Regions from separate parts of the Homo sapiens genome. Here region 2 is linked to region 1. The links come from fine-mapping of genetic effects on gene expression. Tissue or cell type: whole blood. Region 1 holds a variant in brackets; the other region holds the start of a gene. All regions are shown on one strand. Distances are from middle to middle.

Region 1 (10,509 bases):
TGTTCTGCCCTTTCTCAGGGTGGTCACCTGGGCTCAGCTCCTGCAGGGCCAGAGGTCAGGGGAACGGGTGAGGGCCTGAGGGTGGGAACCCGTGCCAGTGCAGCTGCTTCCCAAGCAGTCCCCCATCCGAGAAGCTGCTCACAAACACATTCATACGAGGAGCTGCTCACAAACACGCTTCCAGGACACGGACCCAAACCACGTCCCAGAGGCAGGCAGGGAAGCCCCCGACAGTGCAGTTACGCAAGCCTGAGCCCCGGGAAGTTGGCAGAAAGAACGACAATTACACCCGGAGCTCAAAGAATCCTTTCATGGCTGCTGGCAGAGCAGAAGCAGCTCGGGGCTGAGCATGGCAGTGCTCAGGGGCGCGGTCCACACTCAGCTCAGCCCCACATGAGGACTCAGCCACGCTCAGCTTAGCCACACAGGGCTCCGTGGGGAACCCTGGGTAGGGCCCCCCTGCTGGCTGAGAGAGGGCTCCGGTCCATTGATTCCACACAAGTTCAATAAGGACCAGTCCCTGGGAAAAGTGCAGGCCGGGCCAGCAGGGCCCTAGGGCACTGGGCCAGCATCGTCCTAAGGGGTCAGCCCTGGTGGGGGCACGTCGAGTCTTCAGTGCATGGGCTCTCACTGCCAGCGTGTCGCTTCTGTTCCTGAGGCTCCCAAGGTGACGTTTCCCACCAGGTCTGTAGAATGTGGCGTTTCCACCAGAGGGTCTGGGCTCGGCTGTCAGTGCAGGAGCCGCTTCCATCCCCACCTGGCCGGGGTCAGGGGTGCCCGGTGCCAGGGTGAGCGGCGGGCGGGTCTGTGGTTCACAAAGCTGAGTTCCTCCAGCTCATCCAGGGCTTACAGTCACTGCCTGTGGCCGGCACAGACACAGCCCCTGTCCTCCTAGGCGGGTCCAGGCACCGCGCTCACCAGAGGCCCTGGCTACGAGTCCCAGGCTTCTTGGGGAAGCTGCCCAACCACACTGGCTTCTTTCTGCGACGCTTCGCCGTATGCCTCACAGCGTTTCCTCCGTATGCCTCACAGTTTGCTCCGTACACCCGCGTTTCCTCCGTATGCCCCAGTTTCCTCCATATGCCTCAATTTCCTCCATACGCCCCACAGTTTCCTCCGTATGCCCCAGTTTCCTCCATACGCCCCGGTTTCCTCCATACACCCCACAGTTTCCTCCATACGCCCCACAGTTTCCTCCATATGCCCAGTTTCCTCCATACACCCCACAGTTTCCTCCATATGCCTCAATTTCCTCCATACGCCCCCCAGTTTCTTCCATACACCCCACAGTTTCCTCCATATGCCCAGTTTCCTCCATACACCCCACAGTTTCCTCCATATGCCCAGTTTCCTCCATACGCCCCCCAGTTTCCTCCATACGCCCCACAGTTTCCTCCATACGCCCCACAGTTTCCTCCATACGCCCCACAGTTTCTTCCATACGCCCCACAGTTTCCTCCATATGCCCAGTTTCCTCCATACACCCCACAGTTTCCTCCATATGCCTCAATTTCCTCCATACGCCCCCCAGTTTCTTCCATACACCCCACAGTTTCCTCCATACGCCTCAATTTTCTCTGTACGCCCCACAGTTTCCTCCATATGCCTCAGTTTCCTCCATACGCCCCAGTTTCCTCCATACGCCTCAATTTCCTTTGTACGCCCCAGTTTCCTCCATACGCCCCAGTTTCCTCCATACGCCCCAGTTTCCTCCATACGCCTCAATTTCCTCTGTATGCTTCAGTTTCCTCCATACACCTCAGTTTCCTCCGTCTGCCTCACAGTTTCCTCTATAAGCCTCAGTTTCCTCAGTACACCCCACAGTTTCCTCCCTACACCTCCGTTTGCTTGTTTTGCACAAATGACTGACAACAGAACACTTGTGGGTGTGGACGGAGCTCGCGTCTCGAAGTGTTTCTAAGATGCTATTTTCAGCAGGTCACTATAAACGCTTTCTACTCTGAAGCACACAGGGGCTGGGGCTGGCCTTCGGAGTTACGAGGAAACGAGGACCAGGACCAGGGATTCTGCATCAGCACAGCCGCCAGGAGCCGGCCGGGGCCCCATCCCTGACACTGCTGTCGCCCGGCTGTACCTGGGTGCTGTGTCCGCGGGGCGTCTGGAGACGTCGATGTGGTCATAGCAGGGCCTGGAACGGGGAGGTCTGGCCTGAACTAGAGAAATGAGGGGCGTATCCGCTTCTCCACCCTGGCCTCAGATGAAGAGGCTCTGGGGGCAGGAGGGAGTCAGACACGTGCAGGGCAGGCGGCCTGTGCAGGGCCCAACCCTCCGGCACCAGAACCTGACCTCCTCAGAGGCCCCCACCATGGAGGGATGTCTGGGGGATGCTGTGCGCTGCCGCTACGATGTTTGGTTAGAGATTAAAGCCATTTCAGAAGTGGACACCTGCCCATGTGATGCAAAGGGCTGGGAACCCGGTCTTGACTTTGCCTGGAATGCCTTTCGGAAAGACCTCTGTCCCTGAGGCTGAGGGACAGTGCCTGCTCCTGCCAGGTGCCCAGCTCTTAAGCGGTCCCCAGACTCATGCCACCTGCCCCGGGGCCTCCCCCAACTCATTTGTTTATTTCCCTGTTGGGAATGTATTGATACCTCTAGGATGCAAGGACGGAACCACACCTGAGGGGTGGACAGTCAGCCGGTGCCCAGCAAATATCTGTGGAATTTCCTCCACACAACAGGGAAAGCGATGGAGACAGAAACCTCTGCAGGCCCCCGAGGGCACCCACTTCCCTGACCCCGTCCACCTCCCTGACCCCCGCCCACCTCCCTGATCCCCATCCCGCAAGCTGGGCCTAGGGTATCGGTGGCCTGGCTGGTCATGCCCTGGGCGCCAGCGCCTGTTCAGGAGGTGAAGGGTTTATCTCAGCTTGGCCCATGACTGCGTTGAAGGACAGGAGGGAGCGGCTGTGGCTGTGGCTGGAATCTGAAGCCGGTGCGGGCGGCCAGGGCCTTTCCCTGGGTGGTGACGAGCGAGGACCAGAGCCCTGTCTGCCCGAGGGAAGGGCGAGGGGACACTCCCCGTGGCGGGGGTGGGATCCCGGTAGCCGGGGCTCAGTGACCGCTGCCTGGGCCACCGCCTGTGGGGACCTGACCTTCCTGGGGAAACCCATGGGTCAAAGGAGCCGAGAAATCCAAGCACCAAGTGGCCGCTATGGCAGGACGGGCGCGTTCGCAGTGGAGAAGCTGGGTGTGTCCGTGGGAAAGGAAAGAAATGGAAGCAGAGGCTCTTCAGGGGCACCTGGGAACGCAGCCTACACTCTTCCCAGGCCTCCTCCCTCCGTCCACTGTGCCGCCTGGGTCCTGGGACAGCCTGAGGGCCGCAGGCTCCCATGCAAGGCCCGCTGGGGGCCTGCTTGTCTGGGGCTGAATTTGGACTTTATGGGGCTATGGCTTTAATTTCACAATGACCGATAACCAGTGAACTGAAGCCAGGACAGCACCGTGAGCACCAAGTCAGAGAATTTTCACGAGGGAACCAATGAACAGGAACAGAGTGTGAGGCTGCCCCAGCTGCATCCTCCGGGAGGCGCCTTCCCAAGGGAGTGCAAGGCTGCCTGCTGTGGCCAGGCCACCAAAGCACCTTCTTCACCGCCAGGCATCTTTTGAGGCACGCGAACATCAGAGGCCCCAGCCACGTGCTCTGGAGGAGAAGCTGAGAGCCCCAGGCCACAGGCAGGGCAGCCTCTGAGGGCCGGCTCAGGGAGAGTGGCCGGAGCTTCTGGCCTGGGGCAGGTGGACCCGTTAGAAACTGCATGTGTTGCCTCTGGCACCAGCCACAGCAAGAGATTCTCTTCCTATCACACAGGGAACAAACTCAAGGATCTTGACCTTGCCCTCCTCTCCCCAGCTGGCCGCACTTGGGGACGCTGATGCCACAAAGGAAATAACCAAAACAAGATAACTCTATTGGGCGGCGGGAACAGAAAGGAACATGTAGCAATCACTCCTCTTCATCCATGCAAGGAAGCGAGGCGACGCCTTGAAAAGGACGGCCTTCTTTGCTGCAAATAGCCAGAAGTGAACTGAGCAAAGGAAGCACGGGACGCACAGGAAGAAAAGTGCTCCAAGGGACGGACAGGACGGTGCCGGGGTTAGGAAAGCGCAACACTGTTCAGACACAGTCTCCGATATATGAATGGCAAGCCCAGTTAAAAATATCTAAAGGGCTTTTTTAGGTTTTTAAGAATATTTTTAAGGTTTAGTTTTATTAAAAAATAAGCAAGACAACCAGAAAAAAGACTGAGGAGGGCATAGGAGACCCACCCGCGTGCATGAGGCCGAGTCTAAAGCTGTGGCCACGGCCTGTGGAAACCCGGCAGAAAATCTCCCAAATACCCAGCATATGAGGACGGCAGCAGGTGAGGCACTGGGGTGAGACAGACTCAAATGTGTGGTGTTGGGGCAGGAACTGAGCCTGCAGTCTAGATCCCCACCTCATCCATCACGTCAAAAGAAATTACGGGCGGGTCACAGATGAAAACACCTAACAGCAGGTAACTGTTTTGTAATCTTGGGGAGAAGCCTAAAGCCCAGGAACTAAGAGAGTATAACAAGTGTGAATACAGAATTTAAAAGAAGAGACTGGTTTAGCAATCACTAAGATAAAACACGCGTGACAGGATCTGCTTGTCTCCTCTGAGCACGCAGGAGCCTCTGCCCCAAATGCAGACATTGGGCCCTACGTGGCACCTGGCTACTGTGCATGGTTGCAGGTCAGGGCAGGCCGGGCCACAGGGCAGGGCCACCCTCCCATTCCCATGTTTACACTGAGCATTTCCTCTGCCTGTGTCTCTTGGGCTGGGGTCTGTGATACAAGTCCGGGAGGCCAGAGACGCCCACGGACAGTGCGTGGGGCTTGGGGAGCGGGACTGAGCCACCTCTGACTCCTTCTGCTGACTGGGATCCAGCTCCAAAGCCATGCCTGGGAAGAGACTCCTGCCTCTCCCAGGATGACTCCGTCCCGCCACGCCTCTGCTCTCAGC[G/A]CCCACAGGGACTCACCAAGCTGGACTTTCATCTAAAACTAGACACACGTGACGCCAGCGGACCACAGACCCAGTGCAAGGGGAGCTGTGTGGGTTGTGCTGAAGGTATGTTAAAATTCATACAGGACACCCAAAACAATCAATCTTATTGCATGATAATTTTAAAATAATAAAAAAGACTTGTGGCAAGCTGAAAAAATTTTTGATAACTTTACTACCAATGGCTAATGTGCAAACTCCTACAAATTGAGAAAAACAGGCAAAAAATATAAACAACAGTTTATAGGAAAAGAAATACACAGTTTTTAAACCTATGAAGGACAGCTTTACTCATTAGTTAAAAAAAAAAAAAAAAACCTGAAATGACTGATGTCATTTCTCGCCTGTTACATTGGAAGAGATCAAAAGTTTAAAAAAACAGTTCATTCACCCCTGCAGGGGCGGAGGCTAAGGCTGGCTCTGGGATAATTTGGCAGTATCTGTATCCAAAGGAAACATGAGGACTGCCTCTGCGATTCCATCCTTGGGAACGCATCCCGCAGACACTCAGACGTGTGGGAGGCAACAGGTGCATGAGGATGTCACGCCAGTTTTGTTTAAATGATGGAAATTGGAAATAACCTGGACATCAGCCAATATGCATGGGCTAAGTTCATATGATGCACCGGCTGGAAATGCCAGCGTGAAGGTGAGACACGCTAAGAGAGGGTCTCCTGTGCAGACAGAGTTGCAGAGGCACGGGACAGACCGTGTGTGCTAAGCCGCCACGCGTGTGAAGAGCGGAAGGCCGCTCACACATGTTTACATGTCTAAGCACAAGATTCTTGGAACTGTAACTACGGTGGTGTCTGACTGGACGACTCAGAGGCGGGGATGGGCTTTCACATCACACTCTGTGAAACATTTACATTTTGTTCCATGTGCATTTATTGCCTATTGCTAAAAACGTCAAAATTTACTTGTTTAAAAAAGAAAGTTTGGCGAAAAGGGAGCAGGCCTCGGCAAGGGACCACAGCTCCTTAAAAAACAGAACTATTCAGGGCCCTCCACAAACCACAGCCAAGCCTAAAGCCGCCCAAACCCACAGTGCTCCCAGGAAGGCGCAAAGGAGGCCGACTTACTTTGCACGCAGGTGGCGAAGCCTGAGTTTTTGGTGTACGGAGACCCATACTTGTTGATGCAGTCTGCAGGAAGAAAGGGAATGGATGTCAGTCATCCTTACAAGACCGGATGGACTGCAGAGCCTCTGCTTCTGAGACGCTCTGGAGAGGCAGTTACTCTGCTTACCTGGGGTGCTATCATCCTCCAGAAACAATGCCGCTTAGCTTGTGTTAATAAAAAACATGTTAGCCCCAACCCTGACAAACAGGAAACCACCTCCACCAACTCAGCGGAGTTGTGCACCCACAGTCAAGTGCGTAAAGCACCGCCCGCCGTTTCGAGGGGGCTCCTCCTGCCATACGGGAGAATCACCGGGAATGCTCAGTAAGTTCCTGACGGTACTCGAAAAGCTAAACTTCATTTTCCAGTGGACCCCCATTGGGAAACGCTGTGCTTAACTGGAAAGCCACTCTGCTTTGGAGAAAGCCCCTCCATGCTCTCTGGCTGGCTGAACACAGCTTGACAGCAGACATCCCGCTAGGGCGGCGGGGGGAGGCGAGGCCTGGCACATGCACATCCAGGGATAACCCGAAGCGTGAGGTTGTGCAGAACGGTGCGGGGCCTCTCGACCTGGCCCTTCAGTGGGTTACTGTTGCTTATCCAGGCGCAGAACGGCACGGATGAACAGCGGAAGGCCTCCTGCAGGTGTGCTGTGGACCGCTGGCCACCCCCTGCTTCAGAACTCAGTCCTCGCTGGTGCCTGGGCTTTCTGGGCCAGTGCCAGACCCACTGTGTTTGTTCCAGATATGGACCCAGGGAAGGACCCTTTAAGAGGACATTTACTAAAATGCACTTTGCAACATTAAAAAGAAGACCCTGGAATACATTTCTCTCCTTCTAAGTGAAATGCTCTCAAAGAGCTCTAAGATGGTGTCAGTTAAACGGGCTGACCCGGGGTCTCTGGGTTTCACTTTCTTGCTGTCCTCCCTTCCCAAGTGTACAGTGGGGGTCTCCAGAGGCCGCCCCACATGCACCAGCTGCTCTGATGGCTGAGATAACGTCTGGCATTCCCGTTCTTCAAATTAAACAGAAACACTATTCAGTGTTTTCGGTTTTAATTAAGAATACGGTAAATATCAGTCAATACAGCCCACATGAACATGGACCCCTTTGGGGTCCTCAATGACTTCAGAAGTGATTAGTGCTGAGGTCAGAAAACCGGAGGACAAAATCAATTACACGTCCTGACAAGGAGCTGAGCCTGGCATCAACTCAGAGAAGGGGTTTGCAGATAACAGCATTCACCTGAGGTTCCACTAACACGGAATAAAGCTGTGGTATAAAATAAAGAGAGAAACTTGTGTTTCTGACCTGCATGTTCCGGACAGTTCCACGTGCACCATGTGATTAAGAATCTTCCTTCCAAGAGTTACGTGGTGAGGAGATTCCTCCAACATGAAACACGCACCCCCAACTATGCCTCTACGACAACCAGAGTAGAGAAGTAATTGAGACTTACCTAAGTATCTTGGGTAAAAATAATCCTGTGGAAAAAGAAAAAGAAAAGGCAAGCATTGACCGGCACACTACGAGGGTCTCTGAACAACATAAGCATCAGCTGGTTAATCAGAGGCTGCTCTCGGGGCAGCCAGAGGGCCGCCCCACCCGGGGAACTGAGGGGAAGTGACCGGGGCACGACTGCTGTGAGACCAACAAGCAAAGGCAGGGCCATTTCCAGCTGCGTAGGAAGTGCTACCAGGTGTGTCCAGGGGAGAGGCCTGCCCAGGAGGACAAGAATGCTTCCAAGTAAAACCCCACTCTTAGTTCCCTGTTGACATAAGGGTCTCTAAAACCCAAAGACCTTAGTTCCCTGTTGACACAAAGGTCTCTCAAAACCCCAAAGACCTTTCTTTTGGCACACGGGCATTGATTTGCACTTATAGTATTGGTGAAACAAAATTGGTACTGGGTGAGGATGGAGGCTGTAATGAAGGGTCTTCTTATCCATGAAAGCGCACTGACGAGGTCCACATTCGACACAAGTGAGCTGTCGAGTCCTGGAACCACCTGCCTGTCACTTGGCCAGCAGAGGCCGGCCGGAAACTTCTTCAGGATCCTTTTGCCATGGCCCACAGATTCTAGGGCCACAGCCTGGTTAAAGCAGCCTCCAATCTCCAGCTTAGGGTCAACCATGCCAGCAGTTTGGCCCTAAATGCTCTAAACCAAGAGACCACAGTCATGGCAGAATAGTCCCAGCGGCCTCTCCATGCTGGGTATGAGTCAGCATTTTTACACTATTTTATGAAATCCTCACAAATAACACCCAGGAAGGTCTTTTTAATCCCATTATCAGGAATGAGGAAACCCGGCTTCAGGATGGTTGTGGGATTCACCTGGGGGCATGAAGGTCAGGATTAGCAGGCGCTGGTAGCATTTTGCAGAGTAGCAGACAGAGGCGGTAGGTACCCAGCGCCGTCTGCAACGCGCCTCTGGCTTCATGCGCTGGCTCTGCATGGCCTTTCTGCCTCCTTCCCACCTCTCTCCCACACTTGCTGGCCTTGCCACACCTTTTGTGGGAAGAGCCTGGAGGCCCCGCCCCAGCCTTGCCAACACCCTCCTGAGGCCTGCTTGGATGTGTTTTCACAAAGTTGTGTTCTAGGAAAGATGGGATGCTCTTAAACTCTTACTCCCTTAAGAGAAAGGAAGGGTCAGGGTGAGCTGGTGTGCAGCTCACGTGTCTGTTGGGAGGGCGGCCGCCCTGAAGGCCAGGAGGGCTGCAGACCTGGAACACACACCCTCATGCCTGCCCTCATTTCTCTCACTTCCAATTTTAGTCATGGGTTGGCAAACTCCAAGAAAAGGCAAGAACAGCCATACCAAGTGAGCCCTGGTGGAGTCCTGGAGCAACACGAAGTGGCACCAGGTTTCTAGGCTTGGAAGGAGAAGGGAAGTGATGGGGCTTTGTCTCAAAGCAGGAGGCTCTGGCTCTGAAATAAAAGACTTGCGAGGGATGCAAAAGGTGTCCTTTCAGGTTTAGAAGCCAGGGATTGAAAACAACTAAGAACTAGTGAGCAAACGGCCTAACTATACACAAATGCTTGCATTACCACAGCTTTACAGCAAGTGTGTTCTATTTTTCAAAATCAAGACTAGTCATACTACTTAATGTGTAATCTGTATTAATACCAAGTTTTATTGTTGCAAAAAGGCATTATTCATGGAAAAACTATGCCAATCTCCTGTCAGTTCGCCACACCTATGGGAATGGGGTTTCTGAAACCACAGGGTTATAGCCCTGGGCACTGTATCCTAATTTGCATGTTTGATTATTTGAGACAGTAATGGAGGCAGAAAGCATATGCTAATTCCACCGGCAAACTAGGGGAAAGATGGTTAAACCATGAGCAAGAGAAAAGCTAAGATGAATAAACCTAAAAACGCTATACACTCCTGAGAGAAAGAAAAAGAGACATTTCACATTTTCCTGAGAACATTCTGGTACACACTCCCAAGAAAGAAAGACATTTCACGTTGTCCTGAGAACATTCTGGTATACACTCCTGAGATAAAGACATTTCACATTGTCCTGAGAACATTCTAGCCAAAGATGTAAGACCCAGAAATGGCTTTGAGTAAAGGCACCCAGATAAGCTCCCTGACCTGCAGAACCAAACACAGAGCACTTTGTCCTCAAAACCCTCCCACCCCTGTCTGCACTACTGCTTGTTCAGGTCCATAAACCTTGGCCTGAAGCCCTGCATTAGCCATATCTCCAGAGCAGCACCCCCAGGAGTCCCCATGGAGCAGAGGCCACCACTCAGGAGGCCGGAATTTAGAACCAGGAGCTCCTTATGTACACACTGACTCTCTTTCTTCTAAACCTAGGAAGAGCAAGACCTATGGTAATGGGTTGGCGTGCTGGGGTTAGGTGAGGGCAACAGGGGGAAGAAGCTGGGATTCCCAGGCTGGAAATGGCGCCATTTGGCCCCTGGAAATCCTTTCCCCGGGGATCTGCTTCTGTTTTATTTGAACAGCTACAGATAAAAATAAGTGAGCAAACCCCAAGCCACTGCACTGTTAGCTGAAGCTTCAAGAGGAAAAAGACAACATCTACCTGCCCAGCACCGAGCCTGGTGCTGACTGTCCCCCAGAGGCCTCATGAGCCGTCACCAAACACATGGATGGATGACAGATGGACAGTGGATGAGTGCGTGAAAGAATGGATGGGTGAATAAATGAGTGGATGGGCAGATGGATGCATGAATGAGTGGGTGGATGGATGGATGAGTGAATGGATGAATGACTGAACAGATGGATTGATAGATGGATAGATGGATGGATAGATGCATGTATGGATAAATGCACAGATGAATGAATGAATGGATGGATGAGTGAATCGGTGGAT
Region 2 (7,754 bases), 88 kb before region 1:
CAATCTGGCGTGAGACACACACGCACACACACACACAATCAGGCGCACCCACCCACACATATACACACACAGGTACACAGTCGTGCACCCATCCACATACGTGCAGTCATGCACACAGCCCTGCACACAGACCTACACATACACATGCGTGCACACAGACATGCACACACACAGTAGGGGCCCTAAGCAGGCGTCCTTAGCCTTTCTGCTCTGAGCTCTGCAGCATCAGAACCTGCTGCCATAACTGAGCCAAGTGAACTCCTGAAGCAGGAGCATCCCCGGGCGTGGCAGGGGAGCGCCCACCACCAAGATTCTGCTGCTGTGCTCGGGGGCAGTTGTGCCTTTTCTGTTTTTCTTTCTTTCTATATTTCCAGGAAATCATGACATTAAAAATGACTTTTTCTTATGACGAATATTCATTGTAGGATATTTAGTGAAAATTCACACAATAAAAACTGTGATTCGTTTGTGCTCTCCGAGTTTCTGGGTTTCCTTGCATTTTTCTGGCAGCTTCTATTCTCTCTGGGTGCTTCCGATGCACACATCGCAGATCCCAGGATGATCTTCCTGCCTGGCACGGCTGCCTCCTCCACGCCACCCCTCATTACCTGTGGTCTAGGAAGACCACCAGTTCCCATTCCAAGCTGCCCAAATAGCTGCGAAATATCTGCTGAAGTAAGAGGAAAAGGTTCGTTATCTTTATTATCGCTTGTTCACCTTCCAGCCTCCCTGTAGTGAGGGTCCTGTCCTGACACAGTGATCCCTGTGGCAAATTCTATTTTCCCCAAATGACCACATCACCTTTCTATTTCCCACACACAAGGAGAGGCTCTTCCTTCTTCCTTTGAATTTTGTCACCGGGCTGCTGAAGAGAAGGCAGCAGAGGTGACACAGCGTGAAGCTGAGGCTGGGTTGCAGAAGGTGCCACAGACTCCACCCGGCTCTCTCTCTTGCCCAACGTTCCTGGGAGTCCAGCCCCCATGTCATGAGGAAGCCCACGTCACCTGGAGAGGTTACAGGCACAGCCACAGTCAGCCACGCGCCAGTCCTGGGAGCCACCCTAGCTCACCCTGAGTGGAGCAGAGGCAGGGTGTCCACTCCTGGCCTTGCCCAAATTTCAACTCCAACTAAATAAATGTGGTTTTTTAAGCCACTGAGTTATGGGGTCATTTGTCCCACAGTTGTAGTAACCGGAATGACCTCCAAGGACCTGTCCCACTGTAAAGATTGGCAATCCTATGACTTCTGTCTCCTGGACTCCTCCCAAGCCTGAATCCCTTCCCGGACGCTCACAGGTCGCAGCGTATCTTGGGTAACCCCATCCACTGCCCCCATCAAGCCAGCCCCCGACCTGTCTCCTGTTTCCCGGAGCTTGCTCAGAGATAACAGATTCATCCGATCCTCCAGGAAGGGCCCGAGCGGCCTGGCTCCCTGCCCTCCAGCTCTTAGCTCTGTGTGTCTCTCCTTGCGGGAGCCCTCCCTGCGACACCTCCCGCTGCCTCTCAGCGCTGAGCTTAACACGGTGGCATCACCTGGGAGGGCTCAGTCTTTCTGTCTCTTCTCCATCAGCCTCTGAGCTCCATCAGGGCCCCAGGTCAGTGATCACTCCTGTGCTTCCACAGCCCAGCGCCAAGCCCAGCCCTGCTCTGGGCCTGGACAATGCTCAGGACAGGACAGTGTGGGAGTCAGCCCCTGGCCCTGACCCTGGCTCTCGGAGCCAGCGCTGTTGCTTCCCTACCTCACTGGATGTTGCAGGAATGGGTTAGAGATCTGAGGACCACGGAAAGTTAGGGGTGAGGGGAGGATGAACCAGTCATGGGGAACCCCGGTATCTCTGAGTGAGTAGAGAAGGAAGGTGGTGCTGGCGGGAAGGAAGGACAGGTGCTGGCTGTGGGTTCCAGCCACTTCCGAGGTGCAGGCCTGGGGAGAGGAGGCAGGTGGGGCCTGCTCAGGGAGCCCCTGAAGAAGTTCTGAGTTGGCTGTGCTCCAGTTGGCCCCTGCACATTCCCCATGCCAGGCAGGCGCTTTTTCTCCTCTTTAAAAAGGCATTCCCTGAGCCTGGTGGAATGAGACAAACATGGAAATCCCTGGGCTGCTCTCAGTGGTGGAAGAGGTTGGGCACCCTGGCGGCTTAGGGTGGGACTCGGCCTGCAGAGCCAAGCAGGCGCCCTTTTTCCTCCTTTTCTTTTCCTTTCGTCCATTTAATTTTTAAAATATAACAGACTGTGGCCGGGCACAGTAGCTCTCGTCTGTAATCCCAGCACTTTGGGAGGCCCAGATGGGAGGATCACTTGAGCCCAGGGGTTTGACATCAGCCTGGGCAACATGAGGAAACCCCATCTCTACAAAAAGTATAAACCTTAGCTGGGTGTTGCAGCACACGCCTGTGGTCCTAGCTACTTGGGAGGCTGAGGTGAGAGGATCGCTTGAGCCTGGGAGGTGGAGACTGCAGTAAGCTATGATCATGCCACTGCACTCCAGCCTGGGCCACAGAGCCACAGCATGTCTCAAAAAACAAAAAAGTGACAGACTGCAAACAAAGGCACACCTGGGTAGAGGATGCACAGGAGCTCCTTGCACTATCCCTGCAAACCACCTTTAGGTTTGAAAATAGATAAAAATAAAAAGTTACAAAAAAGTAATCATCTATTTTAAACATCCAGAAAAGTATAGAGAATAATATAACATCCCTGTCCACACCATCTAGCCTTAATGGTATCTCAACATTCCCCCTTTTTTTACAAGTCTTTTAACTTTTTTAAAGAAAGAAGATTTCACAAATAGAGTTTAAGCCCCTAGACATAGTTCCAAAGCTGTTCAGCTTGTCCACCCAGACAGAGAATCACAGTTCTGGATGAAGCATGCACTCTCCCCCAGCATGTTCTTCTACTTTACTTACACAGTATCCATGCATCTACACACATGACTCACGGTGTCCATGTATCTGCACACACATGACTCATGGTGTCCATGTATCTGCACACACAAGGCGGTGTCCATGTATCTGCACACGAGACTCACGTCCGTGTATCTGCACACATGAGTCACGGTGTCCATGTATCTGCACACACGAGACGGTGTCCATGTATCTGCACACGAGACTCACGTCCGTGTATCTGCACACATGACTCAACGTGTCCGTGTATCTGCACACAGGACTCACGGTGTCCGTGTATCTGCACACAGGACTCACGGTGTCCGTGTATCTGCAAACATGACTCATGGTGTCCGTGTAATCACCTCCTACTGTTTCATCATATCCTATAACCAGTTTCTCAGCTTCCATTCTGCTATCCTACAACTACTCTCCAGTAATCCTATGTGTAGGACCCTCCAATAACCCCCACATCACTCGGAGCAAAGGCCAGAGGCCCTGCGGCTCACCCCTGATGTCCTCCACCTGGTCCCCACAAGCCTCTGGCACCCTGGTCTCCTTGCTGCTCCCCCTGGGCCTGGATGGCTCCACCCCAGGGCCTTTGCATGGAGGTTCCTTTTCCTCAGACCCTCTGCCCCAGATGTCTGGGTGAGCAACCACCTCCACGCCCTCAAGCTTGGTCTTCAACATCACCTGTCAACAAGCTCTCTTTTCACTACTTAAAAACCACAGCTCCCTCCCTCTCCCACACTATACTTTCTATTTTGTTTCTTTACCTCTCTTTCCTTTTTCTGTGGCCTGCATTACCTGGCTGTGTATGTATGTATGTGTGTATGTGTGTGTATGTATAAGTGTGTATGTGTGTGTATGTGCATGTGTGTGCATGTATGTGTGCATGTGTATGTGTGTGCATGTGTGTATGCATGCATGTGTGTATGTATATGTGCATATGTGCATGTATGCACGTATAAGTGTGTATGTATGCATGTGTGTATGTATGTGTATGTATGTGTGCGTGTATGTATGCACACATGTATGCATGTGTGTATGTGCATGTATGTATGCGTGCATGTATGTATGCACACATGCATGCATGTGTGTATGTATGCATGTGTATATATGCATGTGTGTGTATGTGTGTATGTGCATGCATGTGTGTATGTCTGCATGTGTGTATGTGTATATGTGTGTGTGTATTCCATAGCATGTTGCCCTCTGACATGCTGTGCATTTTTCTTGTTTATTGTATTATTATTCATGGCCTCACTTCCCCACCAGGATCCTTGTTTACGTTGCTCATTGATACATCCCAAGTACCTGGAACAGTGTCTGGTATATCGCGGATGTTTAGTAAGTCTTGAGAGGCTCACTGAGTGAACAGTGTTAATTTTCATGGTTTAAAACTTTATATAAATGGTACCATACTCGCTGCCGTACTTGCTGTCGTACTCGCTGCCGTACTGTGCACTTGCATTTTTGCTCCGCGTTCTGTTTTTGGCATTTATCCACATTGATCCATGTAGCTCTCATTTATTTTAACTGCCATGTGGTATTTCGCTGTATATGCCCATTTCTTTATCGCTTCTCCCCGTGTTGGATATTCAGGGTGTGTCCGGTGCTTTGGACACACAGTGTTGTGAGGAATATTCTGTACGCATCTTCTAGCACATGCATACTTCTTGTGGTAGTTTCTCTCTCACAGTGGATGGCCTATTAGAATGACTAGGGAATTCTTAGCTATTAGTTTGTTCCCAGAAGTTCTGGTTCAATTGATCTGGTCTGGGTTCAGTGCTGCAGAAATGTTTTTTCTTTTAAAGACATTCCTGGATGACTTTAACGACAGCCGGGGTTGAGAACCACGGCTCCTGGCTCGAAGGAGCAGATCTATGTTTGTGTTCTTGGGCATATCTAGAAAGAGATATGCTTTCTTTCTGGCTTGTCATCTACTTGCTTCAATTTTCCTAAAGGTTGCTTTCAAAGTGGTGGCACCATGCGTGATCCCAGCGGTGAATGCAGATTCCCACGTTTTCATTAACATTCTTTAAGTTGTTTGACCCTTGGGGTTTTCTGATAGGATGAGGGTGAAACGCATCCTCTTGTTCCCACAGCGTTCCCCTAATTCCGGGGGCTGAGTTTATTGATCGTTCAAGCATCTTCTTTTGTGACGGGACCGCTGATGTCCTTGACTCAAAGATGTTAAAAATACGTTTAGAAGGATCTTTATTTTTTCCTGCTGCTGTACGAGGCACCCTTTCTGGCCCCGTGTTTCCTTGCCCTTCTTTCCAGCAGCAGATTTTACTCAGAACAACTTCAGTGCTGTGGACACAAAGACGCAGGCCTTGGAGAGGCGGGTCAGCCCTGCCTCGGGGCTGCTGAGTGAGGTGCCAGATGCGTTTGTTCCTCATTTACTCATTTGCGTTTGTTCCTCATTTACTCGTTCCTCGCAGACTGGGTTGTAACACCATGTACCACCCTCTGAACCCAGAGATCAAGGGCTGGCTGGCCCTGTAGCCCCAAGGAGCTCCGTCACCGGCCAATGGGGAGGCGAACCCGTGGTGACCCACTCAGCGGCACCGCCAAGGGCTGAGCGTGGCGCCAGCGGCGGAAGGCCCGGGGTCACCGTCCCAGGCCGGGGCTCCGACCCCGAGTCCGCAGGGTCCTCTCCAGGCACCTTCCATCTGGGGTCTGGCTTCCACTCCCGGCCGCGGCGTCCTGATTTCCAGAAACCAGGCGGCCGCTGGAGGGGAGAAGGGGGAGCGGGCGCAGCGGGGGAGGGAGGAGAAGAAACGCCGGAGAAGGGAGAGTAGAGCGAGGAAGGACGCGAGGCGGGCGGAGCGCGGGGAGGTGCAGGGGGCGGGGAAGGGGCGGCGCCGCGAGGGCGGCTCCTGGCGGCGGGACTGTGGCTGTGGCCCCGGGAGAGCCGGGTGGGGCCTCGGGATGCAGCCGCCGGTGCCCGGGCCCCTGGGCCTGCTGGACCCCGCAGGTGAGCGCGGGGCTGGGGGCTCGTCTCGGCTCCTGCGGGGGAGCGTGGGGACCCCGGGGCTGGGACTACAGGTCCCCGGCCGGCCCGGGCGGAACCTGCGCGGAGACGCGGCACGGGGTCTGGTCCCTCCGCCTCCTTCGAGCTCTGTCTTTGGAACACTTTGCATTTCGCACTGGGGTCGGGCGTTCGTCCTACCGGTTCGTTCATTCATTCTCTCTCCCTGTCTCTCTCTCTGTCTCTGTCTCTGTCTCTCTCGCTCTTTCTGTCTCTGCCTCCTCAGTCTTTGCCTTTCTCTGACTCTGTGTCCGTTCCTCTTGGCCTCTCTCTCCCTGTTACGTTTTATTATGAGGAACAGGCGCCCCAAAGTGCGCTCCTTCCCCATCTCTTCCGTTTATTCCAACCTACACCATTTTCCGGGAAAACTTCGTTTGGAAGAGCGAGGTAGCCTTTTCCTGTTTGAACGTGCAGAGGCGCTCACAGAACTGGACAGTGTTGCTTGGTTTCGGCTCGCCCCTCTCTCGTGTTTCTCCCCGGTGTGTTCACGGAATCTCCAATTCTTCCACTTCCCAGACCAAGCCCGCTGCAGCCTCGGAGCCAGGCAAAGGCTGGGAAAACAGGAAACCTGTTGCGTGTTCACCAGTTCGCAAGCCGGGCTCGGGGGCTCTGCCGGGAAGTGGCCAGGACTGGAAGGATGCCGGGTGTCTTCCTGAGGGGGAGAGGGCTGGGCAGATTTCAGAACAAAAGAGAAACAGAGTTCCCTAGAAAGTGAAGCCCTGACGGCTGGAGGGAGGGATGGAGTGGTGTCTAGGGGGCTCTGCCGCTCCCTCAGAAATAATCCAACACAAACTTCTGGGGATTAACCTCACAACCCTTTTACTGCGGCATCGTTCGGAACCGGACGAATTACTGTTACTTAAAATAATCAAATAATTTGGCTTCTTTCTAAAAGAAACCACTATATGCCTTCCAATCTAAAGCAAAATGCTCTATGGTCAAATGTATTAATGTGGATTAGTCTATTGGTGTTTAATAATGATAACTATTATTATTATTTATTAACTAGTTTTATCATTATTAGAATGCCTTAATGTTTAAAAATAGCATCTGACTTAGATTTTCTTCTGACAAAGAACTTTAAACCTTAAAACAATACTTGGAGCTGGTCTTTTTAGTATATGAAACATTGGTGTATCTGGGTAGGATTATGGGTCTTTTTGTTTGGAGCTGGTCTTTTACTAAAATGTATAAAGCATTGGTGTGTCTGGGGTTGGATTATGGTCTTTCTGCTTTGGTGTGTCGGGGTGGATTATGGTCTTTCTGCTTTGGGGTATCTGGGGGTGGGTTATGGTCTTTCTGCTTTGGGGTATCTGGGGGTGGATTATGGTCTTTCTGCTTTGGGGTATCTGGGGGTGGATTATGGTCTTTCTGCTTTGGTGTGTCTGGGGGTGGATTATGGTCTTTCTGCTTTGGGGTATCGGGGGTGGGTTATGGTCTTTCTGCTTTGGGGTATCTGGGGGTGGATTATGGTCTTTCTGCTTTGGTGTGCCTGGGGGTGGATTATGGTCTTTCTGCTTTGGTGTGTCTGGGGGTGGGTTATGGTCTTTCTGCTTTGGTGTGTCTGGAGGTAGATTGTGGGTTTTTCTGCTTTGGGGTATCTGGGGGTGGACCATAGTCTTTCTGCTTTGGGGTACCTGGGGGTAGGATTATGGGTTTTTCTGCTTTGCCCTTCTTTGTTCACTACCCTGGGCATGTGTAAAATCAGGACGAAAGAGGAATTGACGGCTGAGTGATTACAGTTTTACCTGGGATTGTTACTTGGACACCATGACTGGTGTCCCCACATGATTAAATGGAACTCACTCTTCTTTTTGGGCGTTCCAGGTCCGGCTGGCAGGA

What was found. PIP is the estimated chance that this variant, and not a neighbour inherited with it, causes the effect.
Region 2: it holds the start of TMEM255B, and the variant in region 1 is fine-mapped to the expression of TMEM255B in whole blood (TOPMed, PIP above 0.99).

Annotation. Positions count from the first base shown.
Region 1 is chr13:113,840,403-113,850,911 of GRCh38, forward strand. GAS6 (growth arrest specific 6) reads right to left here. Exons shown (of 15, transcript NM_000820.4): 3 at 7,624-7,648; 4 at 6,125-6,187. GAS6-AS1 (GAS6 antisense RNA 1) reads left to right here. Exons shown (of 5, transcript NR_044995.2): 5 at 1,967-2,439. Among named protein-coding and RNA genes, the nearest start is that of GAS6, 18 kb to the right of the region's middle. RefSeq lists enhancers at 8,072-8,695, 8,696-9,317. The variant G/A (reference allele first, on the strand shown) is at 5,004.
Region 2 is chr13:113,753,458-113,761,211 of GRCh38, forward strand. It overlaps TMEM255B (transmembrane protein 255B), which reads left to right and starts at 5,769. Exons shown (of 9, transcript NM_182614.4): 1 at 5,769-5,858. The coding sequence starts at 5,813. It overlaps LOC105377805 (basic salivary proline-rich protein 4-like), which reads right to left and starts at 662. Exons shown (of 3, transcript XM_047430843.1): 1 at 1-662. RefSeq lists enhancers at 4,929-5,430, 5,987-6,488.